Regions from separate parts of the Homo sapiens genome. Here region 1 is linked to region 2. A link means that fine-mapping ties the variant in region 2 to the expression of a gene that starts in the linked region. Tissue or cell type: lung. Region 2 holds a variant in brackets; the other region holds the start of a gene. All regions are shown on one strand. Distances are from middle to middle.

Evidence for each region. PIP is the estimated chance that this variant, and not a neighbour inherited with it, causes the effect.
Region 1: SMARCB1 starts here. The variant in region 2 is fine-mapped to the expression of SMARCB1 in lung (TOPMed, PIP 0.99). The same link has a PIP of 0.9 or more in blood mononuclear cells.

The regions. Positions count from the first base shown.
Region 1 is chr22:23,785,062-23,790,186 of GRCh38, forward strand. SMARCB1 (SWI/SNF related BAF chromatin remodeling complex subunit B1) reads left to right here and starts at 1,905. Exons shown (of 9, transcript NM_003073.5): 1 at 1,905-2,201. The coding sequence starts at 2,109.
Region 2 is chr22:23,813,903-23,819,100 of GRCh38, forward strand. It overlaps SMARCB1 (SWI/SNF related BAF chromatin remodeling complex subunit B1), which reads left to right. Exons shown (of 9, transcript NM_003073.5): 6 at 2,868-3,034. Among named protein-coding and RNA genes, the nearest start is that of DERL3, 23 kb to the right of the region's middle. RefSeq lists enhancers at 2,028-2,529, 2,530-3,031. The variant C/G (reference allele first, on the strand shown) is at 2,176.

The DNA.
Region 1 (5,125 bases), 29 kb before region 2:
CTAACACCATGAAACCCCGTCTCTACTAAAAATACAAAAAATTAGCCAGGCGTGGTGGCGGGCGCCTGTAGTCCCAGCTACTCGGAAGGCTGAGGCAGGAGAATGGCGTGAACCCAGGAGGCGGTGCTTGCAGTGAGCCCAGATCATGCCACTGCACTCCAGCCTGGACGACAGAGCAAGACTCTGTCTCAATAAAATAAGTAAATAAATAAATAAATAAATAAATAAATAAGGGATGGTTACCTCTGTACTGAACATGTACGGACTTTTTTCCCTATCATTGTTCCCTAAACAATAGTATAACAACTATTTATATAACATTTGCATTGTATTAGGTAGTATAAGGAATCTAGAGATGATTTAAGGTATACAGGAAAGTGTGTGTAGGTTATATGCAAGTATGACACCATTTTATATAATGGACTTGAGCATCTGTGGACTTTATTATCTGCAGGGGGTCCTGGAACCAATTCCCATGGATACTGAGGGATGACTGTACTTTGGTTTCCCACCACTGTGAGGATACAGAACAAAGCAACTTCAGTCACTGCCCTTCCCAACTCTCCAGTGTCTCCTTGCCCTACCTTCCAGCCCCATGTGTGTCTTCGTAATAGCATAGTTGCATTTTTTTTTTTTTTAAGAGAGGCAGGGTCTCCCTTTGTTGCCCAGGCTGCAGTGCAGTGGTGCAATCAGCTCACTATAACCTTGAACTCCTGGGCTCAAGGGATCTTCCCCTCTCCACTTCCCAAGTAGCTGGGGCTACAGGTGCACACCGCCATGCCACACCCAGCTTATTTATTTTAGAATTTTTGTAGAGACAGGGTCTTGCTGTCTTGTCCAGTCTGGTCTCAAACTCCTGGCTTCAAGTGATCCTCCCTGCCTTGGCCTCCTAAAGAGTTGGGATTACAAGGCCGGGCGCAGTGGCTCACACCTGTAATCCCAGCACTTTGGGAGGCCGAGGGGGGCGGATCACGAGGTCAGGAGATCGAGACCATCCTGGCTAACATGGTGAAACCCTGTCTCTACTAAAAATACAAAAAATTAGCTGGGCGTGGTGGCGGGTGCCTGTAGTCCCAGCTACTTGGGAGGCTGAGGCAGGAGACTCCAGCCTCAAAAAAAAAAAAAAGAGTTGGGATTACAGGCATGAGCCGCTGAGCCCAGCCACAGCTGCAATTTCATTAGATTGAACGGTGTGAAATCATCAGTAGTGGGCCACTGTTTTACTCCCTGCATTATTCAATCATGATTGCTTTCAGACTTTCATTAGTTTCACTAGCTTCGCGCTGTAAGAGCCAAGAGGCAGAGCCACAGGGCTGGGCTGCCTGGTTTCACTCCCCACTGCAGGGCTCGGTTAAGCAGAGTGTAGGCTAAGAGAGGAATGGAGAAGGTGGAAGGTGTCTCTCCCTTCCAACGCTCATCTGATGCACCAGCCAAACCAAATACCACCTGGGCCTTTGAACATTGCCAAGCCTCATCCGCTGTTGTCATTTTGCCCACCTCCACAGCTGCAGGGACAGCCGTAGGCCCGGAACTGGGATATCTCTTCCTAGGGGCCTGCCTATCTGCTCAGCTGCACTGCGTTTTAGGGGTGGGGAAGCTAAGGCACGAGATTGGGGTCCCAAAGCATGCCCAGACCACCCAGGCTTCCAGATACTAGGTCCTCCTCCTTCAGGCCTCACTTCGTTGCTTTTCCCCTGGGCTCAGTTCCAGTCCTGGCTGTAAGACTGGGAAAGCCACTGCTTGAGTCAGGACCTCATTGGCTATTTTTGTCCGTGAGAAGTCCTCTACACCACGACTTGGGAGGCAGCCTGGGAGAAAGAGAAATTAGTCGTGGCTCCTTTAAGGGGTCCGCGGAGGCGCGCCCGGCCTTTTGTTTGAGCGGCGGCGCGCGCGTCAGCGTCAACGCCAGCGCCTGCGCACTGAGGGCGGCCTGGTCGTCGTCTGCGGCGGCGGCGGCGGCTGAGGAGCCCGGCTGAGGCGCCAGTACCCGGCCCGGTCCGCATTTCGCCTTCCGGCTTCGGTTTCCCTCGGCCCAGCACGCCCCGGCCCCGCCCCAGCCCTCCTGATCCCTCGCAGCCCGGCTCCGGCCGCCCGCCTCTGCCGCCGCAATGATGATGATGGCGCTGAGCAAGACCTTCGGGCAGAAGCCCGTGAAGTTCCAGCTGGAGGACGACGGCGAGTTCTACATGATCGGCTCCGAGGTAGCCCGGGGCGCGTTCTCGCCCTCCCCGGGCTCGGCCCCGCGGGAGCCCCGGGGCGGGCCCATGCGCCGAGAGCGCGCGTCTCCATTCATCGGGGCGGGCGGGCGCGCGCGCGCGCGCTCGGGGCTGTGGGGCGTGGCCTAGTGGGCGTGTCGGGTGTGGCCCCCGCCCCCTCATCGACCTGGGATTTCCTTACTTATTTCGCCGAGGTCCGCCGCCTTCAGTGCTGCCAAGATTTTGGCGCCGCGAGGGGCCCCAGTGGTTCCGCGCTGGGTTGGTTTCCAGTCAGACGCAAAGAAACGGGATATTGAGTTAGCCCCTGCGACGCTTGGGGGACTGCACTGCTGCCTTTGACCCTTTTTAGATGTCGTAAATTTCACGTGCACCCCTCCCCGTATTGCTACTTGTGGGAACCTCAAATGGCAGGCTGGAAACCCTGGACTTAGTGAGGGCTCATCCCCATTGTGTTTGTTGCCTCTTAGGTGAGCAGTGGAGGTCTTTTGACCTTTGTTTACCGGTGAAGAAACAGATTGGAGGAAGATGTTTGCTTTTGGGTGAATAAGGGCCCCATGCCTAAGCTAGATCTTTCAGCAGTTCTGAAGCGATTGACACTTTCCATATCTGTGAACTGATTCTGAATTATTACAGGGGAAAGAGCCTAAGGATGTTTAACCCTTAACTAGAGTGGCTGCATTTTGTTGCATCAACTGGATGACTGACTTCAGGAAAACTCTACTGGCCTTTGAATGGGTGTTTGTTCCAAGTCTATTAGGTTCTTGTTTTTTGTTTTTTATAGAGACAGGGTCTGGCTATGTTGCGCAGGCAGGTCTCCAACTCCTGGGCTCAAGCAGTCTGCCCGTCTGGGTCTCCCAAAGTGCTAGGATTACAGGCATGAGCCACCACACCCGGCCATATATTAGGTTTTTACAGATTGTCTCAAACTAGCCTTTTTTGCTCCAAAGGCAGTCCCCAGCTAGTATATGTTACCTTTTTAAAAAAATTATGGATATACAGTTCAGATGTACAAATGTCAAGCAGTAGAATCTCATGTAAGGAAGTAAGTGCCAATCCTGGAGAATTAAAGCTATCATGAAATGCCAAGAGTTTCTTCTCCTTATAGCAGTTTTTAGTATCATATTCCAGCATTTTATTCGTACTTTATTTTCTTTTATTTTTGAAAAAAGATCTCACTTTGTGCAGTGGTGTGATCTCGGCTCACTGCAGCCTTGACCTCCTGGGCTCAAGCGATCCTCCTGCCTCAGCCTCCCAAGTACCTGGGACTACAGGTGTGCACCACCGTGCCCGACTAATTTTTGTATTTTTTGTAGAGACAGGGTTTTGCCATGTTGCCCAGGCTGGTCTTGAACTCCTGGGCTCAAGTGATCCTTGCACCTCAGCCTCTCAAAGTGCTGGAATGACAGGTGTGAGCTACTGCACTCACACTCAGCGCATTCATACTTTTTAAACTTGTGGGTTTTATCCTTCACAATTGAGCATAGCATGAATGAATGAAGCCTCAAGATGGTCACACTGAGTCCCATGGATGAGACTAAGGTCAATAGCATCAGAACTTTAGTGTTAGCATTTTCCACCATTTTTTTTTTCTGGACGAGGTTTGACTCTATCACCCAGGCTGGAGTGTAGTGGTGTAATCTCGGCTCACTGCAACCTCCGCCTCCCAGGCTCAAGCCGTCCTCCCACCTCAGTCTCCCAAGTAGCTGGGACTACACGCACACACCACCACACCCGGCTAATTTTTATATTTTTAGTAAAGATGGGGTTTTACCATATTGTCCAGGCTGGTCTTAAACTTGTGAGCTCAAGTGATCTGCCCGCCTCGGCCTCCCAAAGTGCTCGATTATAGGCGTGAGCCACTGTGCCTGGCCTCCACTAATTTTTATAAAACAAAAAATATAGGATTCAATAAAATTTTCACGTTGTCACTTAAATTACAACTGTTCAAAGATGCCAGTGCTGGGGAGGTAGAGCCAGTGCCTGTCCATCTGCCACAGTTCAGAATGGTCCTCATTGGCCAGTAGGCACCTGCCTAACTGCAGAATGCAAAAGGTGTCAAATTTCAGCCTGTGATACTAGGCGAGTTGTTTACCTGATCTAATGGGTGTAAAAGTAATCAGTTTGGCTCTAAGTAGGTGACACTTCAAAAGAAAGCTTTCATTTATTAGTTGGAGCAAATTGAGAAGCTGTGCGTGGCCAAGTGGGAAGAACCTTGGGAGGCCTGGTTCCAGCCCTGCTCTGCCTTGCTGTCGTGTTTCTCATGTGTATAATGTGATGCTTAGACTAGATGGTCTCCAAGATCTTCCCCAAAACACATTTTAGTTTCTAGAAAGCTAATTACAGTCTTGTCTTTCAGCCCCTTGACTCCTGGGCCTCCCAGTAAGAATAATCTTCCTGAGACCCAGGCTGTAAGAGACTCAGTTGGAGAGGCAGTTTGTTCTTTTGGGCCTGACTTAATCATCAGACCTTCGGAGTTTAGGGAAGAGTTCAAGGTCAGAGCTCTATTGAAATTCAGTAGCTCCAGTGATAGTAGTGGATGGACGGTCTCAGCCCACTGCCCTGTGGAAAACAGGCACTGTATTCAGAGAGGTGGGCCAGCCATAGCAACATACCCAGTGCCTCCATGCGCCATCTGTGGAGCTGTCTTGGGAAGGCATCTGCATTTACTAAGAGTGTGTGTCACTGTTCTGCCATTAACAGACAGCTGTATTTACCAAGCCGGAGTCATGGAGCTTTGAGGACCCTAACAGATCCCCAAGTCCAGCACCTTGATTTTATATTCAGGAAACCTGGGTCCCAAGAGGGTGAAGGCTGGTTCAGAGGAAAGCCAGGAAGGCAAGCCCAGTTTCCTAAGTTCTGAAGGGGCTTTGGGGGGCATCTAGGAGACTCAGAGCCCTGCAGGGCCTGCA
Region 2 (5,198 bases):
CACTGTAACCTCCACCTTCCGGTTTCAAGCGTTTCTCCTGCCTTAGTCTCCCGAGTAGGTGGGATTACAGGTGCCCGCCACCATGCCTGGCTAATTTTTGTATTTTTAGTAGAGACAGGGTATTACCATGTTGGCCAGGTTGGTCTCAAACTCCTGAGCTCAGGCAGTCCGCCTGTCTCAGCCTCCCAAAGTGCTGGGATTACAGGCATGAGCCACCACACCCGGCCAGCAATTTTGAAAAACAGTAAAGTGGGAGTAATCATTCTACCCAATCTCAAGGCTTACTATATAGCTACGATAATCAAGGCTGTGTGGTATTGGTGGAGTGACATACCGTGATGGAACAGAATTGAGAATCCAGAAACAGACCCACACAAACGTGCCCTCCTGATTTTTACAAAGATGCAAATGTGATTCAATGGAGGAAAGACAGCTCATTCAACAAAATGGCACTGGAGCAATTAGACAATCATAGGCAAGTAGGCTGGCACAGTGGCTTACGTCTGTAATCCTAGCACTTCGGGAGGCTGAGGTGGGCAGATCACCTGAGATCACGAGTTCGAGACCAGCCTGACCAAGATGGAGAAACCTCGTCTCTACTAAAAATACACAATTAGCTGGGCGTGGTGGCGCATGCCTGTAACCCCAGCTACTCGGGCGGGTGAGGCAGGAGAATCGCTTGAACCTGGAAGGCAGAGGTTGCTGTGAGCCGAGATCACGCTGTTGCAATCCATCCTGGGCAACAAGAGTGAAACTCTGTCCCAAAAAAGCAACAACAACAAAAAAGGCTGGGCACAGTGGCTCACGCCTGTAATCCCAGCACTTTGGGAGGCTGAGGTGGGCGGATCACCTGAGGTCAGGAGTTTGAGACCAGCTTGACCAACGTGGAGAAACCTCGTCTCTACTAAAAATACAAAATTAGCCGGGCATGGTGGCGCATGCCTGTAATTCCAGCTACTTGGGAGGCTGAGTCAGGAGAATTGCTTGAACCCAGGAGGCCGAGGTTGCTGTGAGCCAAGATCACGCCGTTGCGCTCCAGCCTGGGCAACAAGAGCAAAACTCCGTCTCAAAAAAAAAAAAAAAAGGCAAAAGACAGGAAGAGAAATTTCACTAAAGAAGTTATATAGGTGGCAAATAAACATTGAAAAGCTTTTCCACATTGTTAGCCTTAGGGAAATGCAGATTAAAATTACACTGTTATTCCACATCTTTAAAAAGTGGTGACAGCATCAGATGCTGGCGAGGATGTGGAGGAACTGGGTCACTCACAAGCTGCTGATGGGAATGTAAAGTGGCTGGAAAACTGCCCTAGAAAACAGTGTGGCAATTTCTGTTAAAAACTAAACATGCGGCCAGGCGTGGTGGCTCACACCTGTAATCCCAGCACTTTGGGAGGCCGAGGCGGGCGGATCACGAGGTCAGGAGATCGAGACCATCCTGGTTAACATGGTGAAACCCTGTCTCTTCTAAAAATACAAAAAATTAGCTGGGCGTGGTGGTGGCTGCTTGTAGTCCCAGCTACTCGGGAGGCTGAAGCAGGAGAATGGCGTGAACCCGGGAGGCGGAGCTTGCAGTGAGCCGATATAGCGCCACTGCACTCCATCCTGGGCGACAGAGCGAGACTCCGTCTCAAAACAAACAAAAAACTAAACATGCAACCAGTGTACCTTGAGCATTTATCCTGGAGAAATGAAGACATGTTTATACAATAGCCTACACGTGGATGTTCATAGCAGCTTTATTTATAATAGCGGGAAACTGGAAATGATCTAGATAGCCTTCAGTGAGTGAATAGTTAAAGTGAGGCCCCTTCGTACCACAGAATGTCACTTGGCAGTAAAAGGAAGTGACAATCTGGATGAATCACTGGATACAGATACAGTCCTCTATCTTGTCTTTTTTGGAGGAAACTGGGCGCAGTGTGCATGGAATTTCTCTGTGTTGTTTCTTGCATCTGTACATGAATCTACAATTACTTAAAAATTTTAAAATGCTCTGGGCAGTGTATTCACTGGGTGTTTACCCCGTGCACCTGAGGTTCCTGCTGTTGCTGCCCCGCAGGCTGTTAGGATGCTGGTCTCCAGCGTGTCTTTAGGGCAGGGAGGAGATAGTGGGGCTGTGGTCTGTTAGGCCGACCTGCTTCTTGATGATGGAATCCTACTGTCTGCTCTGAGG[C/G]AATTTTTCTTGGCTTTTTCAGCTTATTCCTGCAAGGCGTCTTGTCAGTACGGTCTGGGTGGAGCAGGGAGAGAATGTTGACTGAGAGGACCTTGCTGAGGTCTGGCTGGCCACAGATGGTCCCTGTGAGCTCCCATCTGGTACAATTCCTTTTCCAGGATCCGGGATCTGTAGGGACCTCCACGCTTGTGACCTTGTTGAGGCCCTGCTGCTGCTACTGCAGTCACAGGCCTGGAAATCGCTGTGGCTTGGCACAGTGTGTTTTGCTCACATGAGGCCTGGTATTGGGCCAGCCTCTGTGCCATCACGTCTGCCACCAGTTCAGCACAGAGGGGAGTAGAGAGATGGCACGCAAGCTTTGATGTGCCTTTGCTGGCCTCGCCTGGATCATCTCATTAGTTGGGATAATCTCATGCGCCCACCCAGCTATGAGTGGAATGAGGGAAGTGTTTATGGCCATGACCACCCCCAGGGCATGGAGCAGGAGGTCTGTGCAGGATGAGGGCTGGGGGCCTGCTAGTCATGTGCTTCCTCCTTCCACTCCCAGTTTCCAGGAAGGCCACCCCCAGTGCCCTGGTTGTCCTCTCCTGCATCCGGAGATGTTTGGCTTCAAAGAAGAAGGGGTGAGGGAGGCCGGTCCATGCCCAAGCATGGTGCAATCTCTTGGCATCCCTTCCCTCTCCTGATTTCAGAGAAGTTGATGACGCCTGAGATGTTTTCAGAAATCCTCTGTGACGATCTGGATTTGAACCCGCTGACGTTTGTGCCAGCCATCGCCTCTGCCATCAGACAGCAGATCGAGTCCTACCCCACGGACAGCATCCTGGAGGACCAGTCAGACCAGCGCGTCATCATCAAGGTAGGTGACTTCTCACCCAGCACTGGAGCCTTCCTGGCCCTCAGGGTGGGTGTCATCATGGAGCACTGAGGGTACACCAAGGCCTCAGCAGAAGCCCGTCTTTGGGTTCCATATCATCTGGAAAGTCATAACACCTGGCTTTGCTCCCTGCAATCCCCCAGGAAGGGCATAGGCTGAGTTCTCATAGTAAAGTGTTATATTCCGGACACATTCAGGGGGTGTCTCTGAGGCACTGCCAGGCTCTGAGCAAAGCCCGGAGGTCTAGAGGAGGTGAAGGCAGCTGATTGGCTGGGCCAGGCTGAGTGCTCCAGGGGGGCCTAGTAACCCAATAAGATGCTGCCTTAGTGGCCATATTACAGGTGAAGAGGTGGGCACGTGGAGAGCTGAGATCACCTGCGGAAGTTGCAAACTGGCCAGTTGAGAAATGGTGAGGCTGGCGATTGGGCGCAGGCCTGCACCCTGCAGAGCCTATAGCATAATCCTTGCTGTGCTGAGCCGCCACTGCCAGACTATGCCTTGAGGGTGAGGGGAGCTTTGAAAATAGGAAGATATGAGAAGTAGGTGAAATTGGCACATGTGATGACCCTAAAAAGGTCAGTGGTTTGGTTAGATCTGATGCTGTGCCTTTGGCTTCCATTTTAGGAAAACATTGATGTATAAAAATAAGAGCCATGTTACAAAGGGTTCCTGAAAATAGTCTTTGGGGTCGAGGAGCCTCGGGAGGGATGCCTCCTGTGACTGAGGGATGCCTCTGCCCCGTGCACCAGATGGAGCCTGGGCCGACTTCTTCCCACTGTGGTTCTCCGTGGCACTTTACTAAGATTTTGGAAAATAACGTGGGGGAATCACCAGCAACTTCCTCTGTGGTCCCCCAAGTAACAAACAACTAAATATCTTATTTAGTTAGTCAAGACAGTCTCACTGTGTCGCCCAGGCTGGAGTGCAGTGGCTCGATCTTGACTCATTGCAACCTCCACCTCCCGGGTTCAAGCAATTCTCCTGTCTCAGCCTCCTGAGTAGCTAGGATTACAGTTGCCCGCCACTAAGCCAGGCTAATTTTTGTATTTTTAGTAGAGACAGGGTTTCACCATATTTGTCAGTCTGGTCTCAAACTCCTTACCTCAGGTGATCCACCCACCTCAGCCTCCCAAAGTGCTGGGATTACAGGCATGAGCCACCGCACCTGGCCGAAATACTTTGGGTGTGTGTGTGTGTGTGTGTGTGTGTGTGTGTGTGTGTCGCAGTCTCACTCTGTCGCCCAGGCTGGCTTGCAGTGTGCGATCTCAGCTCACTGCAAGCTCCGCCTCCTGGGTTCACACCATTCTCCTACCTCAGCCTCCCAAGTAGCTGGGACTACAGGCGCTTGCCACCACGCCTGGCTAATTTTTTGTATTTTTTATAGCAGAGACTGGGTTTCACCGCGTTAGCCAGGATGGTCTCGATCTCTGGACCTCGTGATCTGCCCACCTCGACCTCCCAGAGTGCTGGGATTACAGGCATGAGCCACCACACCTGGCCAATACTTTGTTTTCTTGATTAATATTTTAAAATTGTGGTAACATTCATAACATAAAATTTACCATTTTAACCACTTAAGTGTAAATTCAGTGGCAGTATATTCACATCCATGGCTGTGTAATTATCACCACCATCCATCTCCAGAATTCTATCATCATGTAAAACTGAAACTGTCCATCAAACACTAACTCCCCATTCCCCCTCCCCCCACCCCTGGCAAGCACCATTCTGCTTTCTGTCTCTATGAATTTGACTACTCGAGGTGTCTCATTTACATTCCTAAGGGAATCATGCAGTATTTGTCCTTTTGTGACTGGCTTATTTCACTTAGCAGAATGTCTTCAAGGTTCATTTATGTTGCACCATGTCAGAATTTCCTTCCCTTTTTAAAATGTATTTATTTTTAGACAGGGTCTTACTCTGTTGCCCAGGCTGGAGTGCAGTGGCGCAGTTATGGCTCACTGCAACCTCTGCTTCCTGGGCTCAAGTGATCCACCCGGTGCAGCCTCCTGAGTAGCTGGGAAGCTAGGACTACCGGCACACTCCACCACACCCGACTGATTTTTTGTATTTTTTTTGTAGAGATGGGGTTTCGCCATGTTGCCCAGGCTGGTCTCAAACTCCTGGGCTCAAGCCATCTGCCCAC